Regions from separate parts of the Homo sapiens genome. Here region 1 is linked to region 2. The links come from fine-mapping of genetic effects on gene expression. Tissue or cell type: whole blood. Region 2 holds a variant in brackets; the other region holds the start of a gene. All regions are shown on one strand. Distances are from middle to middle.

Evidence for each region. PIP is the estimated chance that this variant, and not a neighbour inherited with it, causes the effect.
Region 1: NDUFS1 starts here. The variant in region 2 is fine-mapped to the expression of NDUFS1 in whole blood (INTERVAL, PIP 0.94).

What each region holds. Positions count from the first base shown.
Region 1 is chr2:206,157,126-206,163,184 of GRCh38, forward strand. It overlaps NDUFS1 (NADH:ubiquinone oxidoreductase core subunit S1), which reads right to left and starts at 2,319. Exons shown (of 19, transcript NM_005006.7): 1 at 2,216-2,319. EEF1B2 (eukaryotic translation elongation factor 1 beta 2) reads left to right here and starts at 2,770. Exons shown (of 6, transcript NM_001959.4): 1 at 2,770-2,934; 2 at 3,463-3,585; 3 at 4,221-4,347; 4 at 4,913-4,979; 5 at 5,364-5,489; 6 at 5,604-5,803. The coding sequence starts at 2,855. The coding sequence ends at 5,758. SNORD51 (small nucleolar RNA, C/D box 51) reads left to right here and starts at 4,756; the gene lies at 4,756-4,825. SNORA41 (small nucleolar RNA, H/ACA box 41) reads left to right here and starts at 5,103; the gene lies at 5,103-5,234. RefSeq lists enhancers at 1,997-2,406, 2,517-2,776 and a silencer at 3,037-3,106.
Region 2 is chr2:206,279,091-206,286,674 of GRCh38, forward strand. It overlaps ZDBF2 (zinc finger DBF-type containing 2), which reads left to right. Exons shown (of 5, transcript NM_020923.3): 2 at 450-502; 3 at 2,711-2,819. The coding sequence starts at 2,760. Among named protein-coding and RNA genes, the nearest start is that of ZDBF2, 8.2 kb to the left of the region's middle. The variant C/A (reference allele first, on the strand shown) is at 3,172.

The sequences.
Region 1 (6,059 bases), 120 kb before region 2:
ATTTTCAGTAGAGAAGGGGTTTCGCCATGTTGGCCAGGCTGGTCTCAAACTCCTGACCTCAGTGATCCACCCGCGTCGACCTCCCAACGTGTTGGGATTACAGACGTGAGTCACCGCGCCTGGCAGACAACCAATTTTAAAGCACTCTTTCTTTGAGCTCTTTTTCTTTAGTACCAGTACACACTGTGTAGATATTTTTGTTTTACTTACTAAACTGTAGGTTAGTAATCAATTTTAGTACCTACCAGACTGTAAGCTCCTTGAGGACAAGGAATTTGGACATTTCCCTTTTTTGAAGACCTAGCACAGGACCCTTATGAAAATAACCACCAAACAGTCTTATCACCAAGTTCTAGAACTAGAGTAGCATCTGTCCTATTAAAAACTACTGATGGCATAAATATAAACCTAAACTTACTCCATTAGAGCACTGACAGATTTGAAATCAACAATCAGTATTTCATACAATTTTAAAACTTTAATACTTTTTTATCTCCAATGCAATATAAAAATAGTACTCACTTTGGATAGGAAATCAACTAGAACTAGACTGTTGACATCCAGCAACAAAGCATAGCCCAACATAAGAAATACAGATTTGCAACACTTCGATATGTGCTTTGAACATTGATATGCCAAGTAGCAATAGAAATAATTATCTCTTTGGATGGAAAATGTTAATGACTAATCATTTCTTAAACTAGACTGGATACTTTTCCATATAGGGACTATGCTATTCCACGTTCTCCAACATGGATCCATCCATTTACTTCTTGCCTTCCAAGGTACCACCCTATCCCAATCCACCATCACTCCTTGCCTGGAGTATTTCAATAGCTTTTTTTTTTTTTTTTTTGAGACAGAGTCTCGCTCTGTCGCCCAGGCTGGAGTGCAGCGGAGCGATCTCGGCTCACTGCAAGCCCCGCCACCCGGGTTCACGCCAGCCTCCTGCCTCAGCCTCCCAAGTAGCTGGACTACAGGCGCCCGCCACCACGCCCAGCTAATTTTTTGTATTTTTAGTAGAGACAGGGTTTCACCGTGTTAGCCAGGATGGTCTCGATCTCCTGGCCTCGTGATCCGCCCGCCTCGGCCTCCCAAAGTGGTGGGATTACAGGAGTGAGCCACCGCCTCCGGCCTTCAATAGCTTAACAGGTCACCAAGCTTCCACACTATTCCCACACAGCCTCTCCCCTCTTGCCACCGGCTGTGACCTCAGACTGAAATGCTCTTCCCTGGCCCCTCCTTATCCTTCAAATCTTGGCTTAAAAGCCTTTTCTCAGTTTCATTGACCAGGCTATCTAACATTTACGATTCCCCCAGCATATCATCCATTTTATTCTTCTTTACGGACTCATTTCTGGCTCGTAGTAAATGTTCAATAACGGTTAAGTGAACTGAATCTCTAATTTCTGGTCGTTAATTTGTAGAGACCACTTTCCCGGATTTAAAAAGTGCAGGTGCTCTGGCAGCCTTAAGTCGGTGAAAACAAGAATATTCCGCAAAACAAAAATAACTTGTTTATTCATCAAAAACAGTTAACGTTACACTTCTATACCGTCAATTCGTGTGTGAACAGAGTTGTGTCTGATCCAAGACCTTACAGTTCAAGCACTGGATCCCAATAACCTGTAAACAACGTTTTGTTATTTGCAATGCAATCCTGGGCTAACTTTTCAAAAGTCGTTTTTCTCAATTTCCCGTTAGTTAAAGGAATAAAAAAATGCTGTCCAACGTGGTCAATGGACCAAACAAACAAGGACAACAAACAGAAGCGTGAGCCATTGCTAACACAACAGCGACCAAACAATCATGCACTGTATCAGGCGTGTAAAAATCTGGGGGGAAAGGCTTAGTCTTAAGGCCTAAGTCATCGGACACTGGTCCTCTCCCGGGGAATAAAACGGCCTCCTCCTCTGAGAGGGAAATGTCCTGAATTTTCCCTGCAGAGGGAAGGTCACCTGCAAGCCTACATTCGTGACAGCGTTCCCGAGGACCCCCTGATCCTCATCTTCTTTTCTGCTTCATCAGACCAGAGACCGTGGCTAAAAGCCCCCCATCTGCCGGCTCTCAGGGGCTTCCGAGGCGGCGGGGCGGGAGGCGGCGCCCAGTCAAGGACAACAGAAGACTACGTCGCGTGGGCCAAAGGAAACAGTCCCGTCAATAAATAAGCCTCTGGCCGACGCACCTCACCCTTCCCATCCATACAAGACCTCACCTTCTCCCCGGAGCCGCGGAGGCTGTTCTGCTAAACTGTCTGGACCACGACGACCCCCTAGGAGGCCGGGTCGCTTATTCAATATGGCGGCCTCGGCTAACTCTGTCAGCCGGGCCTGGAGAACGGAAAGCCCGGAGGGACTAGAATCCTTGCATTCGACAAGTTTGTCGGCAATTTCCGTCAGCCGACCAGAGGGCGGAGCTGAGGTCGGCCCAGCCCGGAGGCGGGAAGGACAACTTGGACCCGCAGTTCCGCCGGAAGTGGCCCCAGCCTCGAGGCCGGGCGTCTTCGGTCATCTCCGGCGCTTCTAGGGCTGGTTCCCGTCATCTTCGGGAGCCGTGGAGGTACGAACTTAAGACATGCCTATTTTATTAATTTACTTCCAAACGCAACGAAAGGTCCATGGACAATTTGTGGGCCATTTAATTCAGGGCCCCCAATTCGTACGTGGAGAAGTGGGAATGCAAAAGTACTTTGACCTTTAACCTTCGGTCCGGCGCGGTGGAGGGAAACGCCTCCGTCTCTATATAAGGAATTTTCCGGTCTCTTCGGGTCCTTTTTCCTCTCTTCAGCGTGGGGCGCCCACAATTTGCGCGCTCTCTTTCTGCTGCTCCCCAGCTCTCGGATACAGCCGACACCATGGGTTTCGGAGACCTGAAAAGCCCTGCCGGCCTCCAGGTGCTCAACGATTACCTGGCGGACAAGAGCTACATCGAGGGGTGAGCGGACGGGCTGAGTCGGGGTGGCGGGGAGGTTTCTCCGCCCGGGGCCGGGGCCACGTGGCGCAGCGTGTCGGCTGCCGCGGGAGGGAGGGAGGCCGGGCCCGGGGCCCTTTCGAGAGGGAGGGGAAAGCGCCCCGTTGCCGTCTCCCAAGGCCCTCGTGTGGGGCGAGCCCGGCCTCCGGGGAGCGGTTCACGAGCAAGGAAAGGTTAAAATGTGCTTTATTTACACTTAATTCAGCCAGGTGTTTCCGCATCGCTGCCCAGTTAATACATGTTAAGCTGTAGATAGAGCAACGCCAGACATTGCAGTATTTGAGGTCTACTTAGTGGCAGACATTTCTCAGGATAGCGCGGTGACCCAAACATATGGTTTGATTTGAAGGAGCTAATAAGAAAAGAAAAGCATTAAAGCAACCCTGCTGGGGTTAGTGCCCACTAATTAATGTGATGCATACGGTATTTATTATTTATTCGCTGGCGTTTGTTTTTCAAAGGTGTGTGTGAATGTTTCTGTGTCCTTGGCAGGTATGTGCCATCACAAGCAGATGTGGCAGTATTTGAAGCCGTGTCCAGCCCACCGCCTGCCGACTTGTGTCATGCCCTACGTTGGTATAATCACATCAAGTCTTACGAAAAGGAAAAGGCCAGGTAAAATCATCTTTGTATAGAGCTGAAGAATAAGACTGCTCTCGAAGTTTATCAGGATGTTCACATGACAAAACTGGACCCAGGCTACTTTAGTTTTGTTGGGATATTGTAAGCTAAATTTTTCTGTAACCTTAGAAGGCCAAGAGACTGAAGCCCTCCATTTTTTCACAGAACAGGTAGAACATGGACAGCAGCAATTCAACTTTTCCCCACACTGCCCTGCCAATGTGCCTCGACCTTGACCTGGGGGGCCCACCTCTGGGGTGAGAGGGTGGCTCATTCATTCAGTCCTTGGCCATTCTTCTGAAACTGCCAACAAGGGTGGAAGTTTGGGGAAGTGGACTCCAGTTCACTAAGAATGGAACTGAGCATACTTAATGAAATCTCAAACAGAAATGTTCATACTGAAAGAGTAAATCATAGTGAGTATTGAAAATAATGTCTCACATGGTACTAATGCTTGTCGGGTGAGGAGTTGAACATATGACAGTGTTTACCTGGGCGCATGTGAAAGGGTAAATTATGATTGCAAAAGGGATCTAGTGATAAGTAGTGATTAAAACAAGTTATTTTGTATTTTCTGGAAAAGGATGTTATACTAGCTCAATAGTGGTTGAATTTAAATGTTTTTCAAGCCTGCCAGGAGTGAAGAAAGCTTTGGGCAAATATGGTCCTGCCGATGTGGAAGACACTACAGGAAGTGGAGCTACAGATAGTAAAGATGATGATGACATTGACCTCTTTGGATCTGATGATGAGGAGGTATGGCGTCTTCTATAAAGAACATATCGGCCAGGCGCAGTGGCTCATGCCTGTAATCCCAGCATGTTGGGAGGCTGAGGCGGGTGGATCACGAGGTCAGGAGTTGAAGACCAGCCTGGCCAAGATGGTGAAACCCTGTCTGTACTAAAAATACAAAAAAATGTGGCAGGCATCTGTAATCCCAGCTACTCAGGCGGCTAAGGCAGAGAATTGCTTGAACCTAGGAAGCGGAGGTTGCAGTGAGCCAAGATCGTGCCACTGCATCCAGCCTGGGCGACAGAGCGAGACTCCGTCCCAAAAAAAAAAAAAAAGAATACATCGATCAGCAATTGTATCAATGTGGTTAAGCCAAATTGCCTGGATTTGAATCCTGGCTTTAATTTATATGCCTTTTTCAAATTCTGACTGGTTGCATGATGAATAAAATCAAATCACCATCTTTCGGCTGAGTTCGTGATGGATTTGCTTTTTTCTGATTAAGCCAGTCTTTTTTGTGATGACCCCACTAGCTTTAAGCAGAGGAACAACCAGCTTTCTGAAGTGGATTAATTTTTTTTCTTTACAGGAAAGTGAAGAAGCAAAGAGGCTAAGGGAAGAACGTCTTGCACAATATGAATCAAAGAAAGCCAAAAGTAGGTCATTTGTTTTTAACTTCATTTCATGTTAATGTAAGTAATCTTTTTCAAAGCTTGACCTTGAAGTAATTTCCTCCACATTCCTTGAATAGGTCAATATTTTAAAACCTGTACAGGTTCTTCCACAGCTACTGGTCTGCAGCTGTTCTTATGGTAGCAGTTGTGGCATTCCTCTGTGGGAAAGAAACTGTTAACACAAACACCTCTTTCTTAGCAAAACAGAAAGTGGGTATATATGTGTGACAGACACAAGATGTATCTGTAGTTTTGTTTGGCTAAGGAGATAGTCTCAAAACAAATTGAGATGGATTTGTTTGTGTCTTGGAGTAGGGTGAAAAAAATACAATTCATTATTTGAATAATGCTGTTTATTGTTTTTAGAACCTGCACTTGTTGCCAAGTCTTCCATCTTACTAGATGTGAAACCTTGGGATGATGAGACAGATATGGCGAAATTAGAGGAGTGCGTCAGAAGCATTCAAGCAGACGGCTTAGTCTGGGGCTCATGTGAGTTTAGGCTTTGCCTTTTTTTTTTTGAAACTAACATCTGGAATTTGCCTACAGTTTCAACCTTTCCTACAAGACTTTTCTAACTAGGATTTTTCTTAATGCTCTTTTTAGCTAAACTAGTTCCAGTGGGATACGGAATTAAGAAACTTCAAATACAGTGTGTAGTTGAAGATGATAAAGTTGGAACAGATATGCTGGAGGAGCAGATCACTGCTTTTGAGGACTATGTGCAGTCCATGGATGTGGCTGCTTTCAACAAGATCTAAAATCCATCCTGGATCATGGCATTTAAATAAAAGATTGAAAGATTACCTTTGGCTCTTGAGTATGTTACATAGGAGGGTGGTGTATATATTCCTTTCATTTTGGGGGAAGGAATTAAATGAATATGTGATTCCTAAATACCCCAAATTTGGTTTGGCATTGTTGTTAGAAAATTGCAGTGCAGGCCAGGTGTGGTGGTTCATGCCTGTAATCCCAGCAGTTTGGGAGGCTGAAGTGGCTGGATCGAGACCAGGAGGCTGATACCAGCCTGGGCAATGGGGAGAGATCCTGTCTCTACAAAAA
Region 2 (7,584 bases):
AAACATGCTTCTGCTTAATAGTGTATTGATATAGATAGGTGTTAAAAGAATTGACAGTATTTTTCATTAAAGCTAACGTGGTACCTGAGCCTCGGGAAGTTTCTCATGAAGCTCATTTTGGGTTTGACAGCATTTTTGCTCTCAACTTTACCAGAGGCACAATTGAGCCTTATAGTCTTTTACAGCTACTGTTCCAGGAACCTAGAGACCTGCAGTGTTTGATGGTGGGTTAGATGGGCCATCACAGTCACTGCGCCAGAACTTTAGGAGGTCATGTGTGAGATTCAGTGAGTCATAGTATGTAAAGTGCTTTGTACTCCAAAGTTAATATTTTTTCTTATATTATTGGAAACATGTCACCGTTCACAATATATCTGGATGTATTTATTTGGTCAATGGTAGACACTTATGGGACCTCTTCTAAAAAATGATTTTATTTTAATTTACAGATACTTGCCAGAACTAATACAGCTGATGAAATACCTGACCTTTTCTGCTCCAGGTAAATAATTTTTTACTTTATAAAAATATCAGGTTCTAGGAGAATTCAGAGTTTGTATAAAAATACCTATTTAGGCATGCAAAGTAATATAAATCCAGACCCTAAAGAAATGATCCCTTTAATAAATAAGTTTTATTAGTTTATAAAAAATAATGACTTATGTTATTGAGTCAACTTACAGCAGAATCACCTTGAGCATTTTATTTTATTCTATTTTATTTTATTTTTTCGAGACAAAGCCTCGCTCTGTCACCCAGGCTGGAGTGCAGTGGTGTGACCTCGGCATGCTGCAGCCTCCACCTCCTGGGTTCAAACGATTCTATTGCCTCAGCCTCCCGAGTAGCTGGGACTATAGGCATCTGCCACCACACCCAGCTAGTTTTTGTATTTTTAGTAGTGACAGGTTTTTGCCATGTTGGCCAGGCTGTTCTCAAACTCCTAACCGCAGGCGATCCACCTGCCTCGGCCTCCCAAAGTGCTGGGATTACAGGCATGAGCCACCATGCCCAGCTGCCTTGAGCATTTTAAATATGCTTTATAACGTATGTCCTGGGTTCCCTTGACCACTGGGATTTTGATTTGCTAAGTTTCTGATGGGGTCCTGGCATGTTAATTTTTAAAAATGCCAACACATGCTTCTGGTTTATTGTAACTCACTGTCATTAAGGCACTAGAGATGACGGAAGTGGCAGGTGATAATGCCACAGGAGTTAAGGGCCATAGGGTTAAAGACCAAAAATATTTAAGTATTTACATTTTGTGTGTATGTGATATTAGATTAATGGTTTACTTTTGTCCTTTATTCAATGAATGTTTTAATTATATTTTCAATCCCCCAAAAGTTTATTTTAGGATTTTTCAAAGTTTACATTTAAGCTCTAGGTTCTCTCAGCTTGAAATTTGCCTTATGTGTAAGTACAATTTAAAATAAAAGTTTGTTCTGTTTTATTGCTGTAGGTTAATAAGTGAAGTAAATTAGTGGAAAAGAGACCAAATTTTAAGTAAGTAATGTCTTACATGTTTTTTGTGTCAGAGGCTGGTTTAATTGATTAATTTTCCTCATAAATGTGAGAAGTCAGAAAATCAATTTCTCATAATAAGAAGTAATAGGTAAGTAAATATTATGCTAGCATTTTGACTTAATGAAGCTTTTTTCCCCTCATCTTATGGTTTTAAGGCTGTGATTTCATTTTTCAGTTATTGATTTTAATGATTAAATTTTTTCCATTGCAGAAATTCTCATAACATGTTATAGAATGATTGTTATATATTTTCCAACAGATAAGAATGCTTAAATTAATTGAAATACAAAATTATTTGTAATTCTGTTTTCGGCTTAACAAAGCAGCAAATAAACTGCATTAAATTTTTTACTTAAAATAATCATAAATTATATGTACATTGTGTCAGTTAATACATTGGTAGGGCATGAAAATTACTGGGGGAATTTTAAAAATTCTGAATCCTAGGCTCACCCTAGCTCTACTAAAATTTTGGGTATTCAGCCTGGTTTGGGAACCATGCAGTATGTAATGTTGAAGGATTATACTTTTAGGTGAGTGGAAACTGGAAAACTATTTATTTGTAGAGAAATCTAAACAGTAATAGGAAAAAAATCCCTCCTATTTATCTGGCTTACATAATTGTCAGAAGAAAAGTGTTTTGTGTTTCAGAGGCTAAATTAGTTGTTCTGATTTTTAGCAACTGTGTTGGATAAATTATTTAAAAACCTGCCTCTCTATGAGCTGAGCAGAAAATGCCATGTGGTGTCTTTACACTCATGATAACAGAGAATGAGACGTTGTCAAATAATCTGGGGTTTGATATGGAAACATGATGGGGAAATTAATGAGCTCCATTAGAGTATAGTAAATATACCATAACAATATCTTAGAAGTAATTGGTCTTCGCAAATTGAATATTGTATTCTTTGTTACTAAATCAATATCTAATATCTCTAATAAGTTATTAGAAAAACTAAATATTCAGTCATCTAGTCTTCAAACATTGGCAACAAACTGCTCTTTCATAAGATACATAGTTCTTGTCTCTGCTCCAGGTTCACTTATTTATTCAGTGGCTCATGGCAGCCTTGTATATTTTCCTAATTATTAGAAGTGAATTTCTGTTTTCTGCTAATTATCATAGCCATTTTCCTCATAAGAGTAAGGAATTATGATTTTTACCATTTTTCTTTTTGTTTTTCAGCTTGAGTATTCAAAGACAGTAGCCATCTGACTTCAGTTATTTATTCAAGATGCAGAAAAGACAAGGATATTGCAGTTATTGCCGTGTGCAGTATAATAACCTGGAACAGGTGAGCGGTTTCTATTAATATGATAATATCTCAAAGGACCTAGTTGTGACTTTCTCTTACATTTTATTAAATTAATTTATTTATTCATTGAACAGATCATATTGGGAATCTATTAGTTGGCAGACACTGTTTAAGGTTCTAGGGATATGACCATGAACAAAAACCAAGCCTCTTTTTTCATGAAGCTTATATTCTAGTATAGTAAGACAGAAGATAAATAATATATAAATTTAGTACATAATGCGTGAGATTGTGATAAATGTTATGAGGAAAACAAAATAGGGAAGGGGTAGGGTGGCCAGGTAAGGCCTTTTTAAGGAAGTGACATTGAGTTGAGATTTGGAGTTTGGGT[C/A]TCAGGTTTGCATTTATCTGGGGAAAGATTTTCTAGGTAGAGGGAAGAGACAGAGACCCTGAGGGTACAGAGTGGTTGGCACACTAACGAAGAGCCAGGAGGCCGGTGGCTGCATGGATGTGGGGAGGTGGGTGAGAAGTAATAGGCAAAGAATTCAGACAAATCAATTCTGTATTTTAGATTCAGGGGGTATATGGGCTTGTTTGTTACATGGGTATATTGCATACCTGCTGGGGATTGGGCTTCTAGTATACCCATTACCCAAATCGGAGAAGTCGATTCTTTAAGACATTGTAGGCTAAGGTAAGGACTTTGAATTTTATTTCAAGTGAGATGGGAGAGCATCTCAAAGTTTGAGCATAGGAGTTAAATCGTCTACTTTGTGTTTTAAAAGGTTCATTCTGGCTGCTGAGGGAAAAATAGTTGGTATAGAGATTTAAAAATTTTGTTATTGTGATATAACTCATACACCATAAACTTGACCCTTTAAGGTGTATAATTCAGTGATGTTTTATTATGTTCACAAAGTGGTACAACCATTGTCTAATTCCAGAACATTTTAATCACCCTAAAAGGAAACCCTGTACGCACTGAGCAGTAACTCACTCCTCCCTTCTGTCACCAGCCCCTGGCAACCGCTAGTGTATTTCCTGTCTGTATAGATTTGCTTATTCTGGATATTGCGTGTAAATGGAATCAAACGTTGTGTGGCCTTTTGTGTCTGGCTTCTTTAATGTAGCGTAATATTTTCACGGTTCATCCAGGCTGTAACATGCATCACGACCTCGTTCCTTTTTATGGCTGACAATGTTCCATTGCATGGATATATCACATTTTGTTTATTCATTGAGCAATTTATGGATATTTGGGTTGTTTTTACTTTTTGACTGTTATGAATAGTGCTGCTATGGATATATGTGTACAAGTTTTTGTGTGGACGTATGCTTTCACTTTTCTTAGGTTTACATGTAGAGTGGAATTGTTGGGTCATGTGGTAATTGTGTTTAACTTTTTTGAGAGGGTGCCTCACCGTTTGTCAAAGTGGCTGTACCTTACCACCAGCAATGTATGAGGGTTCCAGTTTCTCCACGTTCTTGTCAGCACTTGTTGTTGTCTGTTTTGTTTTTTGTTGTTGTTGTTGTTGTTGTTATAGCCATCTTTGTGGATGTGAGATGGTATCTCATTTTGGCTTTGATTTGCATTTCCCTAATGACATATAGTGTCTTTTCATTGGGCATTTGTATATCTTGTTTAGAGGAATGCCTCTTCATATCCTTTTCCTATTTTTAATTGTGTTGTCTTTTTATTGTTGAGTTGTAGAAGTCTTTATATATTTTGGATAATTGACCTTTATCAGATGTATGATTTACAAATACTTTCTCCATTCTGTGGGTTGTCTTATTACTTACTCTTTTTTTTTGAGACAGGGTCTTGCATTATTGCCCAGGCTGGAGGGCAGTAGTGCGATCATGGCACACTGTAGCCTCTGCCTCCTGGGCTCAAGCAGTTCTCCTGCCTCAGCCTCCCAAGTACCTGGGACTACTGGTGTGCACCACCGTACCCAGCTAATATTTTATTTTTTGTAGAGATGGGGTCTCACTATATTTCCCAGGCTGGTCTCAAACTCCTGGGCCCAAGTGATTCTCCTGCTTTGGCCCCTGAAAATTTTGGGATTACAGGTGTGAGCCACCACAACTGGCCTTCTTTTTACTTTCATGATGCTATGTTTTGATGCACAAAAGTTTTAAATTTTGCTGTTTTGCTTATGTTTTTTGGTGTCAGAAGGGTTGCCTAATCTCAGGATGGAAGATTTATGCCTATGTTTTCTTCTAAGAGTTTTACAGTTACTCTTACATTTAGGTCTTTTATCTGTTTGAGTTCATTTTTGTATAGGGTGTGAGATAGGGCTATACTTTTTTTTTTGAGTCTGTAAAATTAAATCTGTTTCATAGAAATCATGTTAAAATTCATGCGCATCAGAGCTCTCCCTGTGCTACCCATAGTGGATGTATGTATGTATGTATGTATTTATATTGATTTGTTTACTTTTATTATTTTTATAATTATACATATGTATGGGGTACAGTGTGATATTTTGATACATGTGTATAATGTGTAATAATCAAATTGGTAATTAGCATACTCATCACCTCAAACTTTTATCATTTCTTTGTGTTGGAAACATTTAAAATCCTCTCTTCAACTGTTTGGAAATTTACAATCAATTATTATTAACTATAGTCATCCTACAGTGTTGTATAGGACTTTAGAACAACTAGAACATATTTCTCCTATCTAGCTTTAATTTTGTATTCATTAATTATCCTCTCCCAATTTCTCTTCCCTGACTTCTTCCCAGCTTCTAGTAATCAGCATTCTATTCTCTAGTTTTACGAGCACAACTTTGATGACAAGATTTTCTTCTTTTATGGCTGAATCGTATTCTACTGTGTATATATACCACATTTCCTTTTTGTGTGTGTGTGAGATGGAGTCTTGCTCTGTCACCTAGGCTGGAGTGCAGTGGCATGATCTTGGCTCACTGCAACCTTCGCCTCTTGGGTTCAAGCAATTCTCCTGCCTCAGCTTCCCGAGTAGCTGGGATTACAAGAGTGCACCAACACACCTGGCTGATTTTTGTATTTTTAGTAGAGATGGGGTTTCACCATGTTGGCCAGGCTGGTCTCGAACTCCTGACCTCAGGTGATCCACCTGCCTCAGCCTCCCAAAGTGTTGGGATTACAGGCGTGAGCCACTGCGCCTGGCCCCTTTTTTCTTTTATCTGTTGATGGACACTTAGATTGATTCTATATCTTAGCTATTGTGAACAGTGCTGTAGTAATAAACATGGGGATGCAGATATCTCCTTGATATACTGATTTCCTTTCCTTTGGATAAATACCTAATCAGTAGGATTGCTGGACCATATGGTAGTTATATTTTTAGGTTTTTGAGAACATTTATACTCTTTTCCATAATGACTATAATAATTTGTATTCCCACCAACAGTGTGTAAGAATTCCCTTCTCTGCATCCTTGCCAGTGTGTTATTTTTTGTCTTTTCGATAATAGCTATTCTAATTGAAGTGAGATGATATCTCATTGTGGTTTTGATTTACACTTCCTTGATGATTAGTGATGTTGAACATTTTTTAATATACTTGTTGGCCATTTATATGACTTTTTGAGAGATGTCTTTTCAGCTTATTTGCCCATTTTTAAGTTGGATTATTTCCTTTTGTTGTCATTGAGTTGTTTGAGTATTCCATATTCCAGGTATTAATCATCTTTTGGATGAATGGTTTGCAAATATTTTCTCCCATTCTTCAGTCTGTTGAAGTCTCTCTTCACTCTGTTGATTGTCCTTTGCTGTGCAAAAGCTTCAGTTTGATATTATCCAGTTTGTCTATTTTTGCTTTGTTCCCTGTCCTTTCGAGGTCTTTTCCGTAAAATCTTTGCCCAGACCACTGTCCCAAAGCATTTCCCCTGTGTTTTCGTCTAGTAGTGTCATAGTTTTGGGGCTTACATATATGTCTTTAATACATTTTGAGTTGATTTTTGTGTATGGTGAGAGATAGGGGTCTAGTTTCACTTTTCTGCATATAGATATCCAGTTTTCTCAGCTTCATTTATTAAAGAAGCTGTTCTTTCCCCCAACTTATGGTATTGGTGCCTTTGTCAAAAATCAGTTGGCTGCAAATACATAGATTTATTTCTGGGTTTTCTGTTTTGTTTCATATCTGTACATTTTCAGAAGTTCCTCTTGTTACTGATTTCTAGTTTATGCTATTGTGGTCAGAAAAGATACTTGATATAATTTCAATTCTTTTGTATTTGGAGACCTCTTTGTGGCCTAATATGTGGCCTATCCTGGAAAATGTTGCATGTGCTGATGAAGCAAATGTGTATTCTGTAGCTGTTGGTTGAAATCTTCTGTAAATATCTGGTAGGCCTATTTGGTCTAAAATGCAGTTTAAATCAAGTGTTTCTTTGCTGATTTTCTATCTAGATGATCTGTCCAATTCTGAGAGTGTGATAATCAAGTCCTCAGCCAGTCTAATAGTATTTGCTTTATTTATCTAGGTGCTCTGGTATTGAGTACATATATATTTATAGTTGTTTTATCTTCTTGCTGAGTTGATCCCTTTATCATTATATGATGGCCCTCTTTGTCTCTTTTTACAGTTTTTGACTTAAAGTCTGTTTTATCTATCATAAATGTAGCTACTCCTCCTCACTTTTGGTTTCCAGTGCATGGAATATCTTTTTCCATCCCTTTGCTTTCAGTCTATATGTGTCTTAAAAAAAAAAAAATAAAAGAGATGGAGTCTTACCATGTTGTCCTTGCTGGCCTTGAATTCTGTGCTCAAGATATCCTTCTGCCTCAGCCTCGTTAGTAGCAGGGACTACAGG